3 separate regions of the Homo sapiens genome follow, and regions 1 and 3 are each linked to region 2. Evidence: fine-mapped expression QTL. A gene starts in region 2. Each other region holds a variant in brackets. All regions are shown on one strand. Distances are from middle to middle. Region 1 overlaps POR (cytochrome p450 oxidoreductase). Region 2 holds the start of RHBDD2 (rhomboid domain containing 2). Region 3 overlaps POR (cytochrome p450 oxidoreductase).

Evidence for each region. PIP is the estimated chance that this variant, and not a neighbour inherited with it, causes the effect.
Region 1: its variant is the best candidate, but not a certain one, in a credible set for the expression of RHBDD2 in tibial artery (GTEx, PIP 0.63).
Region 3: its variant is the best candidate, but not a certain one, in a credible set for the expression of RHBDD2 in whole blood (TOPMed, PIP 0.63).

The regions. Positions count from the first base shown.
Region 1 is chr7:75,927,155-75,934,063 of GRCh38, reverse strand. All of the region lies in intron 1 of POR (cytochrome p450 oxidoreductase), which reads right to left. Among named protein-coding and RNA genes, the nearest start is that of SNORA14A, 13 kb to the left of the region's middle. RefSeq lists an enhancer at 5,468-5,527. The variant T/C (reference allele first, on the strand shown) is at 3,399.
Region 2 is chr7:75,875,453-75,882,361 of GRCh38, reverse strand. RHBDD2 (rhomboid domain containing 2) reads right to left here and starts at 3,328. Exons shown (of 4, transcript NM_001040456.3): 1 at 3,102-3,328; 2 at 126-533. The coding sequence starts at 3,279. RefSeq lists silencers at 2,948-3,127, 3,228-3,477 and an enhancer at 3,024-3,632.
Region 3 is chr7:75,952,899-75,959,807 of GRCh38, reverse strand. POR (cytochrome p450 oxidoreductase) reads right to left here. Exons shown (of 16, transcript NM_001395413.1): 2 at 5,628-5,819. The coding sequence starts at 5,806. Among named protein-coding and RNA genes, the nearest start is that of SNORA14A, 13 kb to the right of the region's middle. RefSeq lists a silencer at 683-977. The variant G/A (reference allele first, on the strand shown) is at 3,745.

The DNA.
Region 1 (6,909 bases), 52 kb before region 2:
AAAATGTAAAGAAACTCTATGATTAGACAACACAGGATATCAATGTTAATTTCCTGCTATTGATCACTGTATTTTGCTTACCAAAAAAAAAAAAACTGTCCTTGCCTTGAAGAAAATACACACTGAAGTACTTAGGGGTAACCAAGTATCTTGGTCATATCTGCAACTCATTCTCAAATAGTTCAAGAAAAAATATATCTACACACACACACACACACATTGATAAAGCAAATATGGTAAAATATTAACAATGGGGAAATCTGGGTAAAGGGCGCTCAAGAATTGTTAGCACTGCTGTTGCAACTTTTTTGCAAATCTGAAACTATTTCAAAACAAAAAGTTAAAATTAAATACAGTTCAAGAGACCTACTGAGGCTGGGTGCGGTGGCTCACGCCTGTAATCCCAACACTTTGGGAGGCCCAGGCAGGTGGATCACCTGAGGTCAGGAGTTAGAAACCAGCCTGGGCAACATGGTGAAACCCCCATCTCTACTAAAAATACAAAAAATTAGCCAGGCGTGGTGGCAGGTGCCTGTAATCCTGGCTGCTCCAGAGGCTGAGGCAGGAGAATCGCTTGAACCTGGGAGGCAGAGGTTGCAGTGAGCCGAGATCGCGCCATTGCACTCCAGCCTGGGCAACAAGAGTGAAACTCCGCTCAAAAAAAAAAAAAAAAAAAAAAAAAAAAAACAAAGACCTATTGTATAACATGGTGACTATAGTTAGTAGCAATGTGTTGTACTCTTGAAGACTGCTAAGAGTAGATTTTAAGTGTTCTCACCACAAAAAAAGGTGTGAGGTAATGCATATGTTAATTAACTCAATTTAGCCATTCTACCAGACTTCAAAACAATATGCCATACACTATAAATATATACAACTTTGTCAATTAAAAAATTTAAAAGCATGTTTAGTGAAGAAAATGTGCTATATTTTAAAACATAAAATTAAGGAAAACATAATCCAAACTCTTATTTGGTTTCATTCTACCAGTTTTTTACATGCATATTACAGGACATACTTTTCCTTTTTTTTTTTTTTTCAGATGGAGTCTCGCTCTGTTGTTGCCCAGGCTGGAATGCAGTGGTGCCATCTCGCTCAGCTCACTGCAACCTCCACCTCCCGAGTTCAAGGGATTTTCCTGCCTCGGCCTCTGGAGTAGCTGGGATTACAGGTGCCTGCCACCATGCTCGGCTAATCTTTGTATTTGTAGTAGAGATGGGGTTTCACTATGTTGGCCAGGCTGGTCTCAAACTCCTGACCTCGTGATCCACCCACCTCGGCCTCCCAAAGTGCTGGGATTACAGGTGTGAGCCACCGTGCCCGCCCATGTTTTTAACATGATCGGTCTTATACTACATATAATTTTGTTCTACTTTTCATATATTAAATTGTGAACATTTTCTTGTTATAAATTCTCAAATGTCATTATATTTTCACTATTACAATGTCAAGTTACAGTGCATTTTCTAGTACAGAAAAAAAAATTAAAACTGTTTTTAAAAAAGTCATGAAAAACAGGATTGATATATTTTCAACATAAGTCTTTGTAAGCCACTGATAAGTTCCTTAAAATAGAAATTCTGGCCAGGCGCAGTGGTACATGCCTGTAGTCCCAGCACTTTGGGAGGCCGAGGCAGGCAGATTGCTTAAGCTCAGGAGTTCAAGACTAGCCTGGGCAACACAACAAATCCCTGTTTCTATAAAACAATACAACAATTAGCTGGGCGTGTTGGTGCACACCTGCAGTTCTAGCTACTCGGGGGGCTGAGGCATGAGAATCACTTGAACCTGGGAGGCGGAGGTTGCAGTGAGCCAAGACTGCACCACTGCACTCCAGCCTGGGCAGACAGAGACAGAATTTGTCTCAAAAAAAAAAAAAAAGAATTTCTGAATTTGTCTTAGAAATATTTCTGAATCAAAGGGAACAAATATTTTCAAGGTCCCTGACTTACTGTCAAATTATTTTTCAAAAAGCAATTTATTTTCAAAATTTCTCTGCAGCTCTTCCTCTTCAAGGCACGCTGCTAAGCTGAAGAGACGGGAGCAATTCCACAAAGCACTGTGTGCACAGAGGCCTAGCAGCAGGTGGAAGGATGAAAGCTGAAACACAGGAATTAATAAGCACTTAAGGGAGGCCATGACACCTGTGCCCCAGCAGGGAGGGCAAACTGAATCGAGTAGTGGCCTCAGCTTTTCTGGTGGAAGACACATCTTTATTTCCTTGCCAAAATAAACAGAACAGATGGTGGGAGCCGGTTCATGTGTGGGTGAGTCTGGTAGTGGTTAAGGAGGGCTTCCTGATGGAAAGGACTCAAAAGGGAAGGAGACAGAGTGGGGAAGAGCACACACCAAGGCCAGAAGGGAAAATAGAGTCACGGCTTTAAAAGGAAAAACAGGCCAGGTGCGGAGGCTCACACCTGTAATCCCAGCACTTTGGGAGACCAAGGCGGGAGGATCACTTGAGGACAGGAGTTCGAGACCAACCTGTCCAACGTGGTGAAACCCCGTCTCTACTAAAAATACAAAAAAATTAGTCGGGTGTGATGACAGGCGCCTGTAATCCCAGCTACTCGGGAGGCTAAGGCAGGAGAATCGCTTGAACCTGGGAGGTGGAGGTTGCAGTGAGCCAAGACTGCACCACTGCATTATAGCCTGCGTGAGAGAGGGAGACTGTGTCTCAAATAAATAAATAAATAAATAAATAAATAAATAAATAAATAAATAAAATCACACAATAAGTGGCCCTTTGTAACTGGTTTCTTTCACTTAGAATAATGTCTTCAAGGTCCATCCACGTTGTGGCATGCATAAAAGCCCTTCATTCCTCTTCATGCCTGAGTAACATTTCATCGTATGGATATACCACATTTTGTTTATCCATTCAATGGGTGATGGATACTTGGATTGTTTCCTTTTGGGGGCTGTTATAAATATTGTTGCTGGACAGGCACAGTGGCTCATGCCTGTAATCCCAGCACATTGAGAGGCTGAGGCGGGAGGATGGATTGAGGCCAGGAGTTTGAGACCAGCCTGGGTAACATAGTGAAACGCCATCTCTACAGAAAATTAAAAAATTAGTGAGGTGTGGTGGTGCACACCTGTAGTCCCCGCTACTCAGGAGGCTGAGGTTAGAGGATCACTTGAGCCCAGGAATTGGGGGTTACAGTGAGATATGATCCCAACACTGCACTCCAGCCTGGGTGACAGAGCAAGACCCTGTCTTTAAAAAATAAATACATAAGGGCCGGGCAAGGTGGCTCATGCCTGTAATCCCAGCACTCTGGGAGGTCGAGGTGGGCGGATCACCTGAGGTCAGGAGTTGGAGACCAGCCTAACCAACATGGAGAAACCCTGTCTTTACTAAAAATACAAAATTAGACGGGCGTGGTGGCACATGC[T/C]TGTAATTCCAGCTACTTGGGAGGCTGAGGCAGGAGAATCACTTGAACCCGGGAGGTGGAGGCTGCAGTGAGCCAAGATCGTGCCACTGCACTCCAGCCTGGGCGACACAGCGAGACTCCATCAGTATAAACGTTTTCTATTTCCTTGTTTACATTTATTTATTTATTTTATTTTATTTATTTTTAGACAGGGTCTTGCTCTGTTGTCCAGGCTGGAGTGCAGTGGTGCAATCATAGGTCACCACAACCTCTACCTCCCAGGATCAAGTGATCCTCCCACCTCAGCCTCCCGAGGAGCTGGGACTACAGGTGCACACCACTACGCCTGGCTAGTTTCTGAATGTCTCTAAAACAAGGGTTAGTACCCCTTGGTTCTTAAGAAAAAGCACTCAGAATTGCAGAAGAGAGAAAGGCCTGCCTAGTCTACACAGCACTGTGTTTACTACAGGCTCACTAAGGAGGAGCCAAGCAATGCAACCAACGTTCACTCAACACCTACTACGTGCCAAGCACCCTGGCTAGGCACCTTCTACAATTTCTTTTGATTCATATGATAAACCTGTTTAGAGAAATATTATTTCACCCATTTTACAGACTCAGATTCAAAGCCCTAAGGACCAAGCAAGTTACTGAAATTCCCACAACTTACAGAGGGAGATTTAAAGACCTTGTGGGACCCTCTCTGTCACTTCTTGTTGCAACCCTAGACAAGGAAGGGGTGACCCAACTCCTGGCCCATAATGGTCTTGATGGTTCTCATGCTGGCTACTGTCACCCCACATTCAGCTAGTAGTGGGCTGTGCCATTCAGCAAAAACAGAGTTTCTACTAGTGCATAGAGGACCACGGAGTCACAGGGGGTGCTCTGGGCGACAGCTTCACCCACAGAACAGGTATTGGTCAGTGGCTTCCTTCGGTCCAACAGGTGGTTTCAAATCAGCTCTTCCACAAGCTGACAGGGAACAATGGTACTAATGAGACAGACAAGCCAGATGGCCCCTGGGCTGAGGCCTCAGAGGGCACCGTATTGGTCATTCCTTCCCCAGCGTTGCTTGCGTTTCACCTTGATGTTCGGTCATTGCTATGCATTCAAGGCAATCACATGTGTATTGAGGCCGGGCGCGGTGGCTCACACCTGTTATCCCAGCACTTTGGGAGGCCAAAGTGGGAAGATCACCTGAGGTCAGGAGTTCAAGACCAGCCTGGCCAACATGGTGAAACTAAAAATACAAAAAGTAGCTGGGCATGGTGGTGCATGCTCTGTAATCCCAGCTACTCAGGAGGCTGAGGCAGGAAAATCACTTGAACCCAGGAGGCGGAGGTTGCGCTGAGCTGAGATCGCACCACTGCACTCCAGCCTGGGCGATAGAGCCAGACTCGGTCTCAAAAAAACAAAAAAAGTGTACTGAGCACCAACTCTAGGTCATCTCTGTGACCTGTGCTTGGATATTCACAGCATGTGTTTAAATTCTAGAATGTGGGCAGTAGGGTTACTAAAAACCCACAACATGAACAAGTCAGTAATAATTAGATCCCATCGCTATGGTGACTAAGGACGGTCATGCGGTGTCTATAAAAGCATCATAATTATTATACCATTTACAAGATTGCCCATACAGAGCTTTCTATTGCCCCATGTTGTCTTACAAGGAAGACAAAATCCTTTGGTGCTGGCCTGACATTGTACTATGCCTGCTGCTCGAGACAGGTACACTAGGTTACCCAAGATGCTCCTTTAGACTGAGGGCTTAATGCTCCATTTCTCAGACACCACCAAGAGAGCTGCGTACTTGCCGGCAGCTAGCTGTGGAGATGTGCTTGAGTTGGGAGAGCCACAGCTCTGCTGCACCCACTGGGGCTTCCTGTTAGAAAAGAGACCCACCACATCACACAGTACACCTGCATGAGAGGCTAGAGGGAAAGTCCTCCAGGCCACAGCACTAGAAAAAAGTCCTCCTGGGCAGTGACCCACATCACATGGCTTCAAGCTGAACTCTAAGCAACGTCTAGTGTGGGCAGGGTGACTCCGCTAGGCCCTTGGCCTCCATAAGGTGACTCAGTGGTTCAAGCAGCTTTTTCTCTTGTCATTCCACCATCTCAATGTTCAACTTCCGGGCCGTCCTGATGGGAAGAAGATTGCTGGAGGGCCTGGCCCTGGCTCTTAAATGCTTCCATCCAGAAGTGACATACGTGACTTCCTCTCACAGGCCATTACCCGAAGTTAACTTCAAGAGGGCTTAGAAATGTGTGGGAGCCCAGAAACACGCAGTGAACATACGTCTGCTGCAGGTGTCCACGACTAGCTCAAGATGACAGGGAACTGGAGGCACAACTGGTGGGAGTCTAGTTGCTCAAGAACTCATGACCTATAAACCTGATTTTTAAAAACTGAGATAGAAGCCGGGTGTGGTGGCTCACACCTGTAATCCCAGTACTTTGAGAGGCCGAGGCGGGTGGATCACAAGGTCAGGAGTTCGAGACCAGCCTGGCCAACATAGTGAAACCCTATCTCTACTAAAAATACAAAAATTAGCTGGTATGGCAGTGTGTGCCTGTAATCCCAGCTACTTGGGAGGCTGAGGCAGGAGAATCACTTGAACCCAGGAGGTGGAGGTTGTGGTAAGTGAAGATTGTTCCACTGTACTCCAGCCTGGGCAACACAGCAAGACTCCGTCTCAAAAAAAAAAAAAAAAAAAAAGAAACCTGAGATAGAGACTGGGAGCAGTGGCTCATGCCTCAGGCCGAGGAGGGCAAGATCACTTGAGGTCAGGAGTTCGAGACCAGTCTAGCCAACATGGTGAAACCCCGTCTCTACTAAAAATACAAAAATTAGCTGGGTGTGGTGGTGGGCACCTGTAATCCCAGCTACTCAGGAGGCTGAGGCAAGAGAATCACTGGAACCCGGGAGGCAGAGGTTGCAGTGGGCTGAGATTGGGCCACTGCACTCCAGCCTGGACCACAGAGCGAGAGTCAGTCTCAAAAAAAAAAAAAAAAAATTGAGACAGAATTCACACACCATAAAATTCATCATTTTAAAGTATAAAATTCAGTGGTTTTCACTATATTCACCCATTGTGCAAGCATCACCACTACCAGATTCCAGAGCATCTTCATACCCTCAAAAGGAAATCCCACACTCATCAGCAGTCACTCCCCACTCCTGACCTGGTTTTTGTTTTTTGGGGTTTTTTTTGTTGTTGTTTTTTTTTTGAGACAGGGTCTCACTCTGTCAGCCAGGCTGCTGTACAGTGGCGTGATGACAGCCCAGCCTCCTGCGTTGCTGGGACTACAGGCACCCACCACCAAGCCCCATTAATTTTTTGTTAAGATACGGGGTTTCGCCATGTTGCCCAGGTTGGTCTCAAACTCCTGGGCTCAAGCCATTAGCCCACCTCAATCTCCCAAAGTGCTGGGATTACAGGTGTGAGCCACCAAGCCCGGCCCTGATTTGTTTTTAACTAATGAACAGTGTTTTAACACTGCTCTGACATACAGGAGCTGTAATTATCACA
Region 2 (6,909 bases):
GACAGAGACTCTGTTTCGAAAAAATACAAAGTAAGCCCAATTTTATCTACTTGACACCCCAGACCCTCCAGCCTGGTTCACCCTTTGACATGCGTTGTTCTATAGCTCTCTGCTAGGAAGGATACAGGCCAGCCCGATGGACAGCCCGCAGACATTACTGAGGAAAGAGGTCTGGGGAATGAGCCACGAGGCACCCAGCAGGAGCCACGGAACCAGGACTGAGGGCACAACCATGCCAAACACCAGGGCCCGCCTCATCCGAGAACGGACGGTGGTGACTCCCAGCATGGCAAAGGCCACTGGGGTGAAACCTCTGGCATCCTCCACTTCCCCCAGCTTTGACAGTGATGACACAGCCTCGAATGACAGGAAGATGATAGCGGAGAAGATGGCGAAGATCACGGTGAAGAAGCAGTGGCGGACGGTGCCCACGGTTCTCTCGAAATTGCCAGCAAAGCGCCAGATGATGATAGCGCCGCAGAGCAGGGAGATGGGATTCTCGTAGACAAAGATGTAGGTTACCAGCCTGTAAACTGCAGAGGGAGTCGGGTTAGAGGCCTGGCGGCGGGTTGCTCCCAGGAGGGAAGCCAGGTTATAAGCCGCCTAGGAAAGGCAGAGAGCCCCCCTCCGTGACAGAGAAGTGAGAGCCAGTGAGTCGCAGCAGGAGGCAATACAAGCAGTGCGTTCAACAATGAAGGACCCAGAGCCTCAAAGGAGAGGCATGAATATCTAATCCCTACACTTCCCCAGGCCTGGTGCAACTCTTAGCGGTAACTGACTTCCAGAGGGAAAAAAATAATACTTTTCGGTAGAGGGCAGTCTCTGAATTTGTAAAGTGCTTTATAATCCTTTTTCAGGTTTTCATACTGACCTACCTCACTGGGCAGTTTGAGGGTTAATTAAGTGTAACAGCTTCGGGGTGGATTGAGTGGGTGTCACTTAACACTCTGTGTGCCAGTCTCCTCTGCTGTAATCCTGACCCCTCCTTCCATAGTGGCTGTTCAGAGGAAGAAAAAAGGGACCATGAATTATTTTGCAGCTGTAAGAATTATAACACTATCATTAACAATAAAGATTATAGAAATTATAAGTCTCCTCAGAAAGTGCTTATCCGATCTCACAGGTAAACTGATGCTTTATATGTAATAAGACATCAAAGAATCCTCCTTTTCCTTTTTTTAAATTTTTATTTGTAGAGACAAAGTCTTGCTACGTTGCCCAGGCTAGCCTTGAACTCCTGGCCTCCAGTGATCCTCCTGCCTTGAATTCCCAAAGTGCTGAAACTACACATACGAACCATCATTCCTGGCCTTTTATTTTTCTAAAAGCAGTTATCGCCAGGCATGGTGGCTCACACCTGTAATCCCAGCATTTTGGGAGGCTTAGGTGGAAGGATCACTTGAGCCCAGGAGTTCAAGACCAGCCTAGGTAACATAGTGAGACCCCCGTCTTTAAAAAAAATTTAAAAATTAGTCAGGTGTGATGATGTGTACTTGTAGTCCCAGCTACTTGGGAGGCTGAGGCAGGAGGCTCGCTTGATTCCAGGAGTTGAACGCTGCAGTGAGCTATGATTGCATCTCTGCACTCCAGCCTGGGTAAGACGAAGACCCTATCTCTAAAAAAATTTTAGAAGTGGTTATCTCTTAAGTATTTTTATGTCCCTGCATGCCCAAATACGACTAAACTCAAGGAGAGAGACCAAAGAACTGATGGTAATATTGGACTTGGGAGTCTAAAGACTTGGAGTGGAATCTTGGCTCTATTACATCCAGGCTGGCTGAGTTTAATCATGTCACAGGTCCTCTAGGCGTCAGTTTCCTCACTGTAAAGTAACAAGAGTTAGATTGAGGACTTCAAAGGTCCCTTACGTCTCTAACGCTCACATATCCACGAAACCCACACCCAGGGAAGCAGTGAACCCCAGAAAGTGGGAGGTTAAGGTTAGGTTGGCATTTTGCTTCTGTCTGTGAGGTGGTGCTATGTATACCTAGGGTGGGGGGAACAGTTTTAGATTGGAGTGGGGAAGCAGGCTATGGAACCATATACCTCAGTCTGGCCATCACCAGAGGCTTCATTATCTGAAGAGTACTTCATTATTTGTTGAGTATTTCCAAAACTGAAATTCCAAGTATAAACATGAAAAGATTCTAGAAGCAACTGTACATGATTTGGAGATTATCTACCCGAAGGCTCTAGTTCCAAAACATCACAGAATAAAAAAAAAAATATAGATTCCTATCTCAATTGCATGACGCAACAGCTCTGCGATTCTCTGCATGAAACCTCAATCTTATCTAGATAACGGGCCAATAACAGGTCCTACGTCATGGGATCCTTGTGAGGGTTAAACGAAATTAATACATATCAGTGTGTGTGCTTTGCAAAACAGCAGGAGATATGCAAATTTCCTGTGTTCCTCTCGAGAAAATGAGGAAGACACGGAGACTAGGAATGTCTTTCAGGAATGGATGTTTATACTTAATTGGTCTGCAAAATTTCTCTCCCCTAGAGAAAAACAAACACTTCTCTCCAAAGGCAGAAGACACCCTGGTACCCCCATGAGCTGGGAATGGCAGTCAAGATTAAGATACAGATGAAAAAGCAGAAGAAATTCCAAATCTCAAGAGGGCAGGACGTTTATAGGGCTTATAGGGGTTTGTGGATAAAGTCCAATTGTCGTGATGTAGGTGAGAGAAAAACGTTTTTCAGTGGGGCTTAGGCCTAAAGCAGACGTAGGTGTGTATGTGAAATGGGAGGGGGAGACGAAAAATCTTTACCCTTGGAGAGCGAGCATGGATTTGCTAGCGAATGGATTTGGGGCCTTAACCAGTCTGGTGGCGACAGGGAAGGGAACAAATTCGGGTAGGGAAGGGATTACAGTGATGACGAAGATGGGGTCTGCAGACAAAGGTGTGGAACACGGAGAGCAAGAGACGGTGCTGGAGGTCGGTCCTCCGGGGGGCGGGCATGGTGATGAGGACCGAGACAGGGGGAGACTGGCGGTGAGGCCTGAAGGGGCGAGTCCCGGAGGCTAGAGCCCAGGAACCGGCAAAGTCGGAGGACAAGGACTCGCCCCGCGATCCCGGCCCGCCCCTGCTCACCTTGCCAGTTGCGAAGGGCCTCGGACTTCAGCGTGAGGCCCGAGGGCGCCAGGGGCTGCTGCAGCAGGAACAGGCGAGGCCCGGAAACCAGCAGCGAGAGCAGCGCAGTGAAGAAGGTGGCGGATGGCACCTCGGGACACAAGCACCAGCTGCGACACCCGGGCCCCGAGGCCGCCATGGCCGCCGTCGTTCCCGCGCCCCGCCTCGACGCCGGCTGCCGGTCCTCTGCTCCTTCCGCCTCCTCGCGGCAGTTTCCCTTGGCAACAGCAGAGGAGCCGGCCGGAGGCCACGCCTCCCAGAGGCCCCGCCCCATGCCAAGTTGTCCAATCCGGTAGCGCCGATCAGCCCCCCCCCCCCCCCCCCCCGTGCGTGGGAGGCCGGGACGGGGGGAGGGGGGTCGGGGCCACTTCCGGGTAGGAATGTTCCAGCACCGTGTTTGATTCCATCCTACTCGGGCTGGTACTGAAACTGCTCCTATAAACTTTAGGAAATTAATCAGGGAAGAAGGGAGGGGGAAAAACGAAAATAAACGAAGCTTGCAGCACACTCTGCGTTCATCACTAGGTCACCTTGCTCTCCGACCTGCTTGCTCATAGCTCTGTGTATCAGCTATGATAGGTGCCCATCGTCTGTCCTAGAATCACGTAGACCCTGTCACAAGATTACAATTCCCCTTAACTCCATAGATAACAACTTGAACATTATGAAACGTTTTCCCTTGGAGATATTCTTTCAGGTCCCGCATACCAGCATAATTACTGACACCAGTTGTTCTGAAGGAGCCCACAGAAGCAAGACTCAATGGGGACTGCAGTTTCCATATCCTGAGGATTTCAACCCCCTTACCCTGACCAGTCGATGACCCCAATTTTCCAGCCCCTCACCCTTCACAATGCCCTTTAAAATCCCAGCCCGGAACTCCTTGGGGAAGATGGATTTGTTGGTCTCCCTGCGTCTCCTCCTAGGCACCCTGCCATCTTTAAACCCTTTTTCTGCTGATAACCCTGCTTCCTCAGTGTAACTGGTCTGTTATTGCACAGCGGGCCTAGGCACCTGTTGGTCCTGTAATAATACCTCATGATTATTATGCCTTACAGCTCACAGAACTCTTTCATATCACGATCTTCCCATCTGTATTCATCCCTATTACACCAAAGAGGAAACAGGACTAGGGAGGGCCCTGGGTAATTCAGTTACATGGCAAAGACAGAATTAGAACTCAGTTCCTCCTGCTATGGCCCGGAATTGGCCTCCAGTACAGCCAGGGGCAGCTTTATCTTCATATTGAAGAAAAGGGGCAGGAGGCTGGGCACGGTGGCTCACGCCTGCAATCCCAGCACTTTGGGAGGCCGAGGCGGGCGGATCACGAGGTCAAGAATTAGAGACCAGCCTGGCCAACATGGTGAAACCCCGTCTCTAATAAAACTACAAAAATTAACCCGGCATGGTGGCGCGTGCCTGTAATCCCAGCTACTCCGGAGGCTGAGGCAGGAGAATCGCTTGAACCCAGGAGGCGGAGGTTGCAGCAAGCCGAGATCGCACCACTGCGCTCCAGCCTGGGTGACAGAGCAAGACTGTATCTCGGAAAAAAAAAAAAGGAAAAGGGACAGGAAACGGGAGAGGGATTCAATGGAAGGGACTCAAAAGTTAGGGATGTAATAGAACACTCATAACCGAGATCTATTTCAGCACTTTACAGTTTGAAAAGTGCTTTTGCTGGAGAACAGCTGTTTAAGGTAGACCTTCCTTTTTTTTTGACAAGAGTCTCACTCTGTCACCCAGGCTGGAGTGCAGTGGCGTGATCTCTGCTCACTGCCACCTCTGCCACCCAGATGCAAGTGATTCTTGTGCCTCAGCCTCCCGAGTCCCAAGTAGCTGGGACTACAGGTGTGCATCACCACGCCCAGCTAATTTTTGCATTTTTAGTAGATATGGGATTTCACCACATTGGCCAGGCTGGTCTCGAACTCCTGACCTCAGGTGATAAGCCTGCCTTGACCTCTCAAAGTCCTGGAATTACAGACATGAGCCACTGTGCCCAGCAGTACCTTCAAGGGTACTACCTTTTTCGCTTTCTCCAGTGACCCTGCCCAGTACTCCCTCCCCTCACATGGTAGAAGTATTTGGCTCCTTCCCCACACACCCACCCTAGTGTTATCAGCTCCTTGCCCTTGGCTGCAGGCTTTGGTTTGACTCAGCTGTAACTGCTGCCCCCCATAGCTTAGAAGCTCCTGCTGGCTCTGAAGGAAGGAGGCTAAATTTTGGGGCTTGTGTGTCCTGCTTCAGTAGCACAATCATAGCTCACTGCAGCCTTGACCTCCCGGGCTCATGGTATCCTCCTGCCTCAGCCTCCCAAGTAGCTGGAACCACAGGTGCGTGCTACCGCACCTAGCTAGCTGCTTCTTTTTTGTAGAGATGGGATCTTGCTCTGTTGCCCAGGCTGGTCTTGAACTCCTGGGCTTAGGCAATCGTCCCGCCTTGGCCTCCCAAAGTGCTGGGATGACAGGTGTGAGCCACCATGCCTAGCCTGTTGTGTGCTTTTTATGTAGTTACTCATTACATTTTCACAACCCTTGTGAGGCTGGTTCTGTAATTACGCCCGTTTTACAGATGAAGCAATGGAGATACAGAGAAGTTAAGTAACTTAAAATTAGGCAACAAGTCTTCCAGGAATTTTTTTTTTTTTTTTTTGAGACGAAGTCTTGCTCTGTCACCCAGGCTGGAGTGCAGTGCTGTAATGTCTGTTCACTGTAACCTCCTCCTCCCTGGTTCAAGCAGTTCGCTGCCTCAGCCTCCTGAGGCACTTCCCATATTATACTATCATTGCATATTTGTGCCCGTAATTGTGAGCTTACCAAGGGCAGAAGCCATGTCTGATTTATACCTGTGTCTGTATCCACAGCCCTGGCACCTAGCACACAGTGGGGCCACAGAAAATGTTCAATGCAAAGTTATTAGCCCTGATGCCTTTGGGATGTGACCTACTTCCCTTCCTTGTCTCTTGTCCAGAAGCCGAGGGTTCTCACGTAATTGAGACCCCTGGGGACTGTTATAACAACAGCCACCATCCCGAATGCATTTCACACTGAATTTCTGGCAAGAATTTCAAGATATTTTTTGAAGAGGAGACCTGAGGTACACCAGTCTAGGATGGCATGGCCAGTCAGCCCACCTAGCTCTCTGTAGAAAGAGTTTTCTGCATTTGCTGTGCAGAGGGTTTAGGCTCGGAGAGGGCAGTTGCAGGAGATATTCACGTTTCCCTTAAGGGAAACCTAGGATTGCAGGTGTGAGACACTGCACTTTTTTTTTTTTTTTTTGAGACTGAGTTTCGCTTTTGTTCCCCAGGTTGGAGTGCAATGGTGTGATCTTGGCTCACCGCAACCTCCGCCTCCCCGGTTCAAGCGATTCTCCTGACTCAGCGTCCCGAGTAGCTAGGATTACAGGCATGCGCTAGCATGCCCGGTTAATTTTGCATTTTTAGCAGAAACGGGGTTTCACCATGATGGTCAGGCTGGTCTCGAACTCCCGATCTCAGGTGATCCGCCTGAGATCTCAGCCTCCCAAAATGCTGGGATTACAGGCTTGAGCCACCACGCCCAGCCCACTGGGCCTTTTTGTTGTTGTTGTTTGTACAGACAGAGGTCTCACTATGTTGCCCAGGCTGGTCTCAAACTCTTGGGCTCAAGTGATCCTCGTGCCTGGGCCTCCCAAAGTGTTGGGATTCCAGGCATGAGCCAAGCCAAAAACCAGGAGATAAATACCATGTTATACTGGCCATTTCCTTTAATGTTCCCTTAAAGGAGACATT
Region 3 (6,909 bases), 77 kb before region 2:
AATCCAATTCCAACAAAAATCCCACTGGGTTTTTTGTTTTAAAAATGTGTTTGGCCCCGTACAGTGGCTCACACCTGTAATCCCAGTATTTTGGGACGCCCAGGCGGATGGATCACTTGGGGTCAGGAGTTTAAGACCAGCCTGGCCAACGTGGTGAAACTCCATCTCTACTAAAAATACAAAAATTAGCCGGGCATCATGGTGGGTGCCTGTAATCCCAGCAACTTGGGAGGCTGAAGCAAGAGAATCGCTTGAGCCCCAGAGGCAGAGGTTGCAGTGAACTGATATCGCGCCATAGCACTCCAGCCTGGGTGACAGGGCGAGACCGTGTCTCTAAAACAAAATAAATAAATGCCAATTCTAGAAGCCACCAGAAATCATGGTGAGAGTTCCTGATATAGCCCTGGGCCACATACCTTCCTCACACTAAGCCCTATTACTCCCTACTGCTCTGTGGCTATAACAGAAATCACCTGTGCTCACTGAAATACCGGTAGCCAGGGACACTGATGTGGGATTTAGAATAGGAGATCTAGGCTTGAGGCCTGGTTGTATCAGCTAGGTGACCTTTCTGAGCCTCAGTTTTCTCCTATTTTTTATAGAGACAGGGCCTTGCTACGTTGCCCAGGCTGGTCTCCAACTCCTGGGCTTAAGCAATCCTCCTGCCTTGGCCTCCCAAAGAGCTGGGATCACAAGTGTGAACCACTACACCCAACTTCCTGCTCTGTAAAATAACATCTACAGGCTGAATGTCCCTAATCTAAAATCTGAAATCTGAAACTTTTTGAGCGTCAACATGATCCTCAAAGGGAAGAATCATTGGAGCATTTCAGATTTTCAGATAAGAAATGCTCATCTGGTGAGTATAATGCAAACATTCCAAAGTCCAAGATCTGAAACACTTCTGGCAAGCACTTCAGATAAGGAATACTCTCCTTGTCGGTAAATTAACAAATTAACACCACTCTTTTTTGTTTATTGTAGAGATGGCGGGGGGGTGGGGGTCTCCCTATGTTGCTCAGGCTGGTCTTGAACTCCTGGCTCAAGCAATCTTTGTGCCTCAGCCTCCCTAAGCACTGGGATTACAGGCGTGAGCCACCATGCCAGGCCTATTAACACTATCTTAGGAGACTAACACTATCGTAGGAGGCCTATTAACACTAAATTAGGAGCAGCATGGCAAAGTAGAGAAAACATGGCTTGTGGAGCTTGCAGACTTCATTCAAAAGCCAACTCTGCTGCTATTTAGAAGTTAGGTGGCCTTGGGCAAACTCTGCAATCCCTGGCACCTCGGTTTCTTCATCCGCAAAATGGGCTGCTCATGTCTTCGTGGAAGGGCTCTTGTAAGACTGGAGATGGTATTAATAAAAAGGATAAAAATAATAACACACTCCAGGCATGGTGGCTCACGCCTGTAATCCCAGCACTTTGGGAGGCCGAGGCAGGCAGACTGCTTGAGCCCAGGAGTTTCAGACCAGCCTGGGCAACATTGTTAGATGTCCATTTGTACAAAAAATATAAAAATTAGCCAAGGGTGGTGGTGCACGCCTGTAGTCCCAGCTACTTGGGAGGCCAAAGTGGGAGGATCTCTTGAGCCTGGGAGGCGGAGGTTGCAGTGAGCCGAGATCGTGCCAGCGTATTCCAGCCTGAACGACAGAGTGAGACCCTGCCTCAAAATAAATAAATAAATAGTAACAATCCATAACACCTGAGAGCCTACTATGCACCAGGAACTGAGCAAAGAGCTCTATGATGGATTAACTCAGTTTTCACAGCCTTATGAGGTAAGTACTACTACTACCTCCAGCTTACAGTTGGGGACACAGACTTGGAAAGATCAAGTCACCTGGCTGATGTCAGATGGCTAATGTGGGAGAGTCAGTACTCAACCTTGAGCACCCAACTTCAGGGTCCAGAATGTAGCCATGGTACTAGAAATATTTGTCTTGTACAGCGTACAGGTAAAAGCCCTGGCTGCAGCAGGCATCCAGTGTGATTTAATGAGGGAAGAGACAAGACTCTGGAAACTGCATATCTCCACACACATAAGGTTAGAAGATCATGATTAGGTGGAGGGAACAGAATTTCAGCATCCTGGCAAAGAGGAACAGTGAGAATCAACAAAAAAATACAAGTGCTTTGGGACCCTACAGCTCCCACAGTCTACAGGTTTTATGTCAACTTCCTCTTGTAAGGCCAGGGAGGTGACAGCGAGAACAGATGAGCTATGAGAGGAATGCTGCCTCCCTTGGTGGCAAGCTCCGCAGGCTCCCAGGGCCAACCCACGTCCTCACTCACGGCGGTGGGGCGGAACTTCCATTTTACAGATGAGGGAACAAGGGCCAGTTCAGGAGCTGGGTCCTGGACCCTGGTCTCTTTATCTTGAGTACTACTACGCTTTTTTATCAAAAGTACTATTCCACACCAGCAATGCCCCGTGTACCAGCCCTGGACAGGATGGGCTGGATTCCAGCTGATCTGCCCTTCCTATATCGGGCCCTCTGCTCTAAAGTCCTTTCAGCTTCAGGGTGTGGCTCTACCTTTAAGAACCTGCCCAACACCCCTCCTGCAGGACTTGGTCTGATCCCCACACCAATTCCTTCTCTCTTAGAGCTGGCGGAGCCTGTCTCTCCAGCCTGTGCCCTGGGCACATCCCATAACCTCTCTGAGAGCAGAAATGAGGCAACCCACGCTACCTAACGCACGGCGCTGTTGCAAGGAGGCCCTGATTAGACAATGTAGGTTAAAGCAGTTCACAAAGCATTTCTAAAAAGTACGCTGTGGCCGGGTGTGGTGGCTCACGCCTATAATCCCAGCACTATGGGAGGCAGAGGCAGGCAGCTCACCTGAGGTCGGGAGTTTGAGACCAGCCTGGCCAACATGGTGAAACCCCGTCTCTACTAAAAATACAAAAATTAGCCAGGCGTGGTAGCATGTGCCTGTAGTCCCAGGCACTCGGGAGACTGAGGCACGAGAATCGCCTGAACCCGGGAGGCGGAGGTTGCAGTGAGCCGAGATTGCACCACTGCACTCCAGCCTGAGTGACAAGAGCAAAAGTCTGTCTCAAAAAAAAAAAAACTATGTTGCAACACCCTCATTTTCCAGCTTAACATAAATGCTGGCTCTGTGGTCCTGATCGTGCCCGTCATAGTGCCTGGCACGAAATACGATCAACGCAAACACTACACAGCTCCTATCCCTCAGGGGCAGTGCTAGGTGAGTTTATAGACTCTTCCTCATTTAAGACAAAAGCCCCACAAGATTGGGAATACTGCCTCCATTTAGCAGGTGAGGAAACTGAGGCAGAATGAGGTTAAGGTCTCGCCCAGGGTTCACTCACCACTAGAGCGTAAGCTTGATGAAGACAGCATTCATCTATTTTCTTCACTGCTGCAGCCACACACCTTAGCATAGTGTCTGGGACACTGTAGGTAGGGCCTCAGGAAATGTTTGCTCAGTGAGTCAATGATGGAGATAAGATTGAACCCAGTTTTGTTTTGTTTTGTTTTGTTTTTGAGACGGACTCTGTCTCCCAGGCTGGAATGCAGTGGCGCATTCTTGGCTCACTGCAACCTCTGCCTCCTGGGTTCAAGCGATTCTTCTGCCTCAGCTTCCCTAGTAGCTGAAATTACAGGCATGCACCACCACGCCCAGCTAGTTTTTGTATTTTCGGTAGAGACGGGGTTTCGCCATGTTGGCCAGGCTGGTCTCGAACTCCTGACCTCAAGTGATTTCTCCCGCCTC[G/A]GCCTCCCAAAGTGGTGGAATTACAGACGTGAGCCGCTGTGCCTGGCCCTGAACCCAGTTTTTAAAAATGTAAAACTAATTCCCTGTCCATGGTATAAGAACTGTGTTGTGTGAATATCTGCTTTACGGTGTGAAGGCTGTAAGTGTTCTGGCGGGGAAGGCTGATACCCAGATTGGAATAGGGAATCGGGATTTGATGTGAGCGGCATGCTTCACCATGCCCAGCCTTGGAGAATGACTTTTCTGTGTGGCTTGTTCCTGCCAAGACAGCCACAGCCTTGGACTGGAACTGACATGACAGATGGCCCCCACTGGTGTCAGCACCAGCCCAGGGTGGCCCTGGGGTGCAAGCTAAGGCTGCAGCTGGGACTGGGTCCCCTGAAGACAGACAGAATGAAAGGGGTTCTGGTCTGAGAATGGCTCCCAATCCTGCCCCTGAGACCTGCCCCTTGCCAAATCCAGGGAGTCCCTGAAGGCAGCAGGCCCGTGCCCCTGGAGTTCCCTCGGCTCAGACCTGACCTGGCAGGTCCCCACTCAAACCTGGCTGCGGGCCCCTGGAGTCTGAGACTGGTGTTAAACACAGCCAAGCGTAACCGCAGGAAGTAATTCTGGCCGCAGGACCCTAAAATCTGGAGAATGACTTTTCCGTGTGGCTTATGGAAATCAATCTTGGAGAGACAGGGATGCAGTCACTTAGGCAGACCTTCGGTATCATTTTTTTCTGTCTACATACCATCTATACTATTATTTCCTTAACGTTTTTCTTTTAACTAATCCATCTTTTTCACTTATTCTTAAAAGGAAGCTTCATGAAAAGTTTAAAAGAGCAACAAAATAAGGCCTGTCCAAAGATTTTGTGCTCATTAGCACATAGCCTTCCAGGTGGCTACAGCCTTAAAAAGACTTTAAAATGCCAATTCTAGGCTGGGTACAGTGGCTCACGCCTGTAATCCCGACACTCTGGGAGACCAAGGTGTGCGGATTGCTTGAGTCCAGGTGTTCGAGACCAGCCCGGGACATGGCAAATCCCTGTCTCTATAAAAAAATACAAAAATTGACTGGGCGCAACGGCTCACACCTGTAATCCCAGCACTTTGGGAGGCCGAGGTGGGCGGATCACTTGAGGTCAGGAGTTTGAGACCAGCCTGGCCAACATGGTGAGACCCTGTCTCTACTAAAAATACAAAAAATAGCCAGGCGTGGTGGCGGGCACCTGTAATCCAAGCTACTCAGGAGGCTGAGGCAGAAGAATTGCTTGAGCCTGGGAGGCAGAGGTTGCAGTGAGCCGAGATCGCACCGCTGTACTCCAGACTGGTTGAAAGAACAAGATTCTGCTTCAAAAAAAAAAAAAAAAAAATTAGCTGGGCATAGTGGTGCACACCTTTAGTCCCAGCTACTCGGGAGGCTGAGGTGGGAAGACTGCCTGAGCCTGGGAGGTGGAGATTACAGTGAACCTTGATCGTGCCACCGCCATTGCACTCCAGCCTGGGCAATACAGTGAGACCATGTCTCCAAATAAATAAATAAATAAATAAATGGAAAAAAGGGTTCCAGCTCTAGCGCTGCTATTGCTGGCTAATGACCCTGGCAGGCCCGTTAACATTCTTGAGCCCCCGGTTCTTAATCTGTAAACTGGTGTCATTTTCGCAGTGCTTCCTGTGAAGGTCATATAAACAGCAGATAGAAAAGGGCCTTATAAACCCCACATAAGAGATGATTAAGGGAGAGCTCAAGCACAATCTAGCAAGAAGGCAAAACCCAAGAGTCACCCCAAAATGCTACAAGGAGCCTTGCTTCTTTCAGCCTGAGGCCCGCATGCAGGACACTGCTTGGAGTGGTGACAGAAGAGGGACAGAGAGAGGAGGCTGAGAGGCGGCACTTACAATGTCTGAATTTTGGTGAACTCGGGGACTTCTTCTTTTTTCTTTCTGAAGAGGAACCAGTAGGTTAGGAGACCCACGATGAGCGAAAACAGAATCATGTCCGTCATGCTGAAAAGAGATACTTCTTCGGCCACCGCCTCGGACACGGTGGAGCTGGTGTCCACGTGGGAGTCTCCCATGTTGATCATGAAACTGTTAGGAGACAGAAACAGCAGATGTCAGCAGAGGGTAGCAGGGTGCCCCTGAGGCTGGCTGGGGTGCCCACCTAAATGCTGGGCCTTGCCCCTGGGGCTGCAGGAAATGGTCACTGCACGGGGTAGGAGAAGGGGCTCACTCAGCCAGGTTCCTGCCAAGACAGCCACAGTCTTGGACTGGGGCTGACATAACAGACAGCCCCCAGTGGTGTCAGCACCAGCCCAGGGTGGTCCTGGGGTGCAAGCTAAGGCAGCAGCTGGGACTGGGTCCCTGGAAGACAGAGAAAATGACAGCCACTGACTCTCAGTGTGCTGGAACATCCTCTAATCCCACAAGGACACCGCACGGGGGGCAGGCGGGAGGAAGTGCACGCAAGAGTGGACCATTTCGCAGCAAACCCTTTCCCCAGCTGTGTGGCTGGCGGGGGTTGCCCTAAACCCTGCATGTTCCAAGTCTCCAGGCCTGGCCCTTGAGTGGCTCCTGATATTCACGAGCCTTGGACTATCCTGACTGGCAAGAGTGTCTCTGTATTCCTAAAACCTTGGGCTATGAAGGTAGTTCCTGTTAACAATGAGATTTATGGTGAATGCCTGCTTTCCTATGCCTGGGAGTCTTTTTTTTTTTTTTTTAAGAGACAAAGTCTGGTCCCTCCCCCTCCCCCTCCCCCTCCCTCTTTCCACGGTCTCCCTCTGATGCCCAGCCGAAGCTGGACTGTACTGCTGCCATCTCGGCTCACTGCAACCTCCCTGCCTGATTCTCCTGCCTCAGCCTGCCGAGTGCCTGCGATTGCAGGCGCGCGCCGCCACGCCTGACTGGTTCTCGTATTTTTTTGGTGGAAACGGGGTTTCGCTGTGTTGGCCGGGCTGGTCTCCAGCTCCTAACCGCGAGTGATCCTCCAGCCTCGGCCTCCCGAGGTGCCGGGATTGCAGACGGAGTCTCGTTCCCTCAGTGCTCAATGGTGCCCAGGCTGGAGTGCAGTGGCTTGATCTCGGCTCGCTACAACCACCTCCCAGCCGCCTGCCTTGGCCTCCCAAAGAGCCGAGATTGCAGCCTCTGCCCGGCCGCCACCCCGTCTGGGAAGTGAGGA